Linked DNA regions of Homo sapiens. The protein of the gene in region 1 interacts with the protein of each later gene in a pairwise test. Each region holds a gene or a part of one and is shown on either strand. Other genes may lie near its edges.

Region 1 (3,470 bases):
GCAATTAAGACAACAATCTTTGCTCAAGAATCTCCTAGACAATCCTGATTCAAGCACCAGAAACAAAGGGAAAAGAAACCTCCCAGTCTAGTGAAGAAAGTAGTACACATCATGTCAACAGATAGGTAATTTTGTTGATACCATAAGAGCCTATTATTAGGCCTGGCATATGACAGGAGGTCAGTATTTGAGTTGAGTATTGATTGATGGTACTGTGGAAGACAGAGGAAACACATCTGACCCAGATTGGTAGGCTTTCCCAGAAAAGTTTATGCCCAAGTATAGTGTTAACAAATAAGAACTTCTCAGGTGAGATAGGGGAGAAGAGTCTGCGAGGAAAACCTGTCTAGCATGGCAAATACGAAGTCCAGAGATGAGAGAAGATGGTCCACGTGGTTTAAAAGTCTACAACAAGGTAAAGGAGGTACACAGTAATTAAAGTAGGAAAGATATGTCAACACCTAAGAATCAGAACTAGTATCTTGAAAAGTTAGGAGCCCTGGGGTTTTGTTTTTGCTTTTGCTTTTAAAGGATGTGTTTGTTCCCTGTATCACCGTGCCCAGCTTACTCCTTTTCTTCGGAAACACTTGGTGCCGTATTGTTACTGGTTGAATCTCTGTGTTTGGTTTTTAATTTGTTATCTTTGCCCCCATGCTTAGGTTTGATGACAAATACACCTTGAAGCTGACCTTCATCAGTGGGAGAACAAAGCAGCAGCGGGAAGCCGAGTTCACAAAGTCCATTGCTAAGTTTTTTGACCACAGTGGGACACTGGTCATGGATGCATATGAGCCTGAAATATCCAGGCTCCATGACAGTCTTGCCATAGAAAGAAAAATAAAGTAGCCAATTCTAAAAGTAGCCCTCTTTCTCCTGGATCTTGCTGAATTAGTGGCTTGGGGGGTGGGGGAGATAAAAAGAACTTAAAATGGGTAAAGTAAGAAATGTTAAAAAGTCCCTGTTTTGTCCTGAAATTTTAGTCTATTCTGGGTAAATAGGATTTTCTGACACAGATATGAGAAGTTGTAGCTCTGATGTCTAGCTGTAGTCTCCTTGATCTGCTGATTGCATTATTTTAATTTGCTTTTCTGGGAAAGCAGTTTTGCTAAAAGCTGTACAGACTTTTTCTTTTGTACCTAGCAGTACTTTATATAGTATAGCTTTGGGCCATGTAGCATTTTAAGACTCAATTTTAAAAAATTATTAATCTGTTGCTGACTCTTAATTCCTATTTCAATATGTGTTTCCTTGAAGAATTCAGGATACAACTTCTTGTGTATGACAGCTTTCCTTCACACACTATTTTTGTGGGTGTGTATATATCTGATTTGGGAAGAATTTAAAAAACACATAGCTTTTTAATTTGTTTGAAACAGACTTTCTGCCTGTTACATTTTTGCTTTTAACCAATTAAAGAAGCCAATGGCATTTTAGTTTTATATTGTGTTTTCCACTAGTATATCCCTGTTGATTTGTTTGTGCCTTTTATTAACTGCCATTTTCTAAAATTTTTTTCAATAAAAGGAAGGAAGATGTGAAAAAAATGGAGTCATAGTTTTGATGGAGAGAACAGAGAAACAAGTGTTAACATCTTTCTACTATAGGTTTTTTTCATTTTTAGGCTATTTTACTTGTCAAAGGCCCCTGAGAACCTGTAGCTAAGGAACTCTTAGCTTTCCAGTGATAATAACAATAATAACAACATTCTGTACTTACTTTGTGCCAGAAATGCTCCAAGTACTTTACATGTGTTAATAATGCTCACAGCAATCCTAAGAGGCAGGTGCTGTTATTATCCCCATTTTACACATGAGGAAACTGAGATACAAAAGTTAAATAATTGTCACACAGCTAGTGATAGAACTGGGATTCAAACCTGGGGAGTCCGGCTTCAGAGTTTGTGGTCCTGCAGAGACAAAACAGCCGCTTTTCCAGTATTTTCCCAGTATGGTCAGAGAAGACCTGGGTGCTTGCCAAGATCCTTTGACCTTTAGGAATATTTCCCTACAGCCTTACAAAACATCAATTTTGGCTGAGCCTAGTACCCAACACTATATTCAGTTTGTAAGAAATTACCATTATCACATTTCCTGTTTGTCTTGGAGAGGTTGTCCTATCTCGCACCACATGGTAGGGAATTGTGAACAACACTGGACAGAAAGTTAAAGCCTTGGATTCTGTACTCTTCATTCCTGTAAACCTTGGGTAAGTTTCGGAATTCTCTGTGAGCTTCTTAAAGTTTTTGAAAGCATGTAACCGGATAAGTGTATTTTTACAATGGAGGAGTTACAGTCATCTTGGTATTTGTGGGAGATTGGTTCCAGGATCCCCAAGCATACCAAAATCCAAGGATGCTCAAGTCCCTTATATAAAATGGTATAGCATTTGCATATAACCTACACACATCCTCCCATATACTTTTAATCACCTCTGGATTACCTATAATACCTAATATAATGTAAATGCTATGTAAATAGTTATACTGCATTGGTTTTTTAATTTATATTTTTTGTTATTTTTTAAAATATATTTTTAATCCATGGTTGGTTAAATCTGTAGATATAGAGGGCCAACTGTACTGTTAGACACAAGGGTCTCGAGGCTTGCAGATAGAGACTGAATAACCCTCTCCATGATGATCCCTTAGAGTTCCCCCACTGTGCCTTTTTCTTTACATGTGCATGCAAACATGTGTCTCCACATACATTTTTTTTAACAAAAATTGAATTATGTTGATATATGTCCTGTAATTTGTGTTTTAAACTTAATATATCTTAGGCATTTTCCCTGTGTGTGTGTATAATGCAGCTATTAAAAATGAGTCTGAGGCCAGGCATGGTGGCTCACGCCTTTAATCCTAGCACTTTGGGAGACCAAGACAGGTAAATCACCTGAGGTCAGGAGTTCGAGACCACCTTGGCCAACATGGTGAAACCACATCTCTACTAAAAATACAAAAAATTGGCTGGGCATGGTGGCAGATGCCTGTAATCCCAGCTACTTGGGAGGCTGAGGCAGGAGAATGGCTTGAACTGGGAGGCGGAGGTTGCAGTGAGCCGAGATCACACCCTGCACTCCAGCCTGGGCAACAAGAGCAAAACTCCGTCTCAAAAAAGAAAAAAAAAAGAGTCTGACATACATATATATAAAAGAAACTGTTCTAAAATACCAGAAGTGCAAAGGCAGGGGACCAATTGCAACAAGTAGCTGGGGTGATAACCCCTATATATATATACACATAGGTCAGTCTCATTTTTAATAGCTACATAATATTCCATAGTATAAGTGATTTTACTTTAATACCCTATTGATGATAATTTTTCCCCAGTTTTTTTCACTATTCCAGGAAGGAGTATGGATTGAGGAGAGGGGAAGAAAATAGGTCCTCAAATGAGAGACAAGAAACCTGGGTTGTTAGCAACTTTTTTCTAATTTGTGACCTTGAATACATCCTATTCCTTTTCTAGGGT
Region 2 (2,712 bases), on another chromosome or scaffold:
TTTTTTAGTAGAGATGGGGTTTTACTGTGTTAGCCAGGATAGTCTCGATCTCCTGATCTCATGATCCACCTGCCTTGACCTCCCAAAGAGCTAGGATTACAGGCATGAGCCACCGTGCCTGGCCAGAAGTGTAAATATTTTAGATGCAAACATAATCTACAAATTCAGAATGCCTAACTAGTTTATGTAATATAAACTTATTTATAGTTTATGAACTGAGAATTATTAAAGAAATGCAGGAGTAATTATTATTTTGTTTGAGATGGAGTCTCGTTCTGTCACCCAGGCTAGAGTGCAGTGGCGCAATCAGCTCACTGCAACATCCACCTCCCAGATTCAAGCAATCCTTCTGCCTCAGCTTCCTGAGTAGCTGGGATTACAGGTACCTGCCACCACACCCAGCTAATTTTTGTATGTTTAGTAGAGACAGGGTTTCACCATGTTGGCCAGGCTGGTCTTGAGCTCCTGACCTCAAGTGATCCACCTGCCTCTGCCTCCCAAAGTGCTGGGATTACAGGTGTGAGCCACCAAGGAGTAATTATTATTAAAAGGTAACCAGCAGCAGTCAGTTTATAGATAAAGGACCTATACTCATTCTCAGCACCTTGCCCAAAGTAGGCATTCAAACTCAAGTGTAGCCAAGGTCTGCACTAGATACTAGGAAACAACAAACGTAACTGTACATTATAAGAAATGCCACCATAAAACTATTGTAGAGAGAAGTGGTCAGGGAAGGTTTACTGGAGGACTAGGAGAATGAGACAGTAAATGGGAAGTTATTTCACCCAGATGTCTGGAAAGATAGGCTGTTTGACATCTCACACTCTGGCAGTAGAATAAAGACTGAATAGGAAAAGGGCAGAGGACAAGGCAGATGTCTATAAAGGTAAGTAACTTGCTTTATCCTGAGTGCTACAGGGGCCACTAAAAAAACAGAATTTTAAGGAATAACATAAGATTTACATTTCAGAAAAATCACTGATGGTGTAAAAGATGGGCTGGAGGGAACTAAAGGTAGGGATCTGTGTTAGGTACCTGTTACAACATGAGAAAGTGTTAAGAATTGAAGACAATGACAGAAGGAAAAGAAACAGATAGTGGGAGCAGAATTAATACATAGGTTTAACGAGGAGTCTAGAATAATTCCAGTTTTATATCAGTGACTGAATGGCATCATTAATGATGACGAAGATAGGAGTCACATGACCTAGGGAAGGTGGGAAGAAATTTTTTTGTTTTGTTTTGGTTTGTTTTTAATGCATTAAGTTTGGGTTGCCTATAGGGCTTCTAAGAGGAGATATATAATAAGTAATTGAATATTTAGATTTTGCTTCCTATCAAGTCTGGGCTGACGATGAAGTACAATGCTATCACCTTTCCCCAACATGGCTCACTTAGTTATATTAACAAACTAATATGTTCTATAGATACAGAGGCAAATAAACAGGAACAATTAGTTGTATACCCATCTCCCTTTCATTGCTAAGGACTGGATAAATATCTTAAAGACAAAATAGTATAGATGCCCAAAATACAGACTTCCTTTTGGTTTTCTTTAGCTAAGTGACTCTCAAGCTTTACTGTGCACAAGCATTACTGAACCAGACTACACACAATACTTCGTCGGCAATCGATTTTTTCTTAAAGGATTTTACTGCATGACTTATATCTCCATAAAAACTGACTTAAAATCCAGCCCCCTAAATAAGATGCAACTCCACTCTAATCTGGGTATAAATAGTTTTGGCCATGAATCTGGATGAGAATCCTCCCTGAAGAATTTGGTTAAAATATGTTCCAGATCAATTGCAGCAGTTCTACTTGGAGTCCATGAGTGGACTTAACAGAATCTGCCAGTCCTCTGAAACTGTGTAGTATTCTGTGTATATGTGCTATATCTTTTTCTATGGGAAGAGGGTCCACAGCTTTCATCAGGTTTTCAAAAGTACCCATATTCCTCAAAAAACGGACCCACTGGTCCAGAAAAAAAATGGTGCTTATGATTTTTATGAGATAATGATTATCAAGCAATGTTACACAGGACATGAGTTCCTCTAAAGTTTAATACTTGAGTGCTGTGGCCGGGCGCAGTGTCTCACACCTGTAATCTCAGCACTTCGGGAGCCCGAGGCAGGTGGATCACGAGGTCAACAGATCAAGACCATCCTGGCGCCAACATGGTAAAACCTCATCTCTACTAAAAATACAAAAATTAGCTGGGCGTGGTGGCATGTGCCTGTAGTTTCAGCTACTCAGGAGGCTGAGGCAGGAGAATCGCTTGAACCTGGGAGGTGGAGGTTGTTGTGAGATCATGCCACTGTACTCCAGCCTGGCGACAGCACAAGACTCTGTCTCAAAAAAAAAAAAAAAAAAAAAATTGGCTGTGTCAAATATTTCTAGTATTTATTTTTTTAAGACAATAGAAAAAGAATTGCTTTTAGAATGGTGTTTTTTTTTTTTTTTTGAGACAGAGTCTTGCTCTGTAGCCAGGCTGGAGTGCACTGGCGTGATGTCAGCTCACTGCAACCTCTGCCTCCCAGGTTCAAGAGATTCTCCTGCCTCAGCCTCCCGAGTAGCTGGGACTACAGGCCCACGCCACCATGCCCAGCTAAATTTTGTATTTTTAGTAGAGATGGGCTTTCACCACATTGGCCAGGATTGTCTGGATCTCTTGACCTTGTGATCCGCCCGCTTTGGCCTCCCAAAGTGCTG

The links.
Region 2: the proteins of SPCS2 (region 1) and TEFM interact in a two-hybrid assay, tested with the Homo sapiens proteins (one large-scale study listed by IntAct).

The regions. Positions count from the first base shown.
Region 1 is NC_000011.10:74,976,198-74,979,667, forward strand, and holds the end of SPCS2 (signal peptidase complex subunit 2), read left to right. Parts: intron 1-659; coding exon 660-846; 3' UTR 847-2,836; downstream 2,837-3,470. UniProt on the Homo sapiens protein: Component of the signal peptidase complex (SPC) which catalyzes the cleavage of N-terminal signal sequences from nascent proteins as they are translocated into the lumen of the endoplasmic reticulum.
Region 2 is NC_000017.11:30,900,782-30,903,493, forward strand, and holds part of TEFM (transcription elongation factor, mitochondrial), read right to left. Parts: intron 1-2,712. UniProt on the Homo sapiens protein: Transcription elongation factor which increases mitochondrial RNA polymerase processivity. Regulates transcription of the mitochondrial genome, including genes important for the oxidative phosphorylation machinery.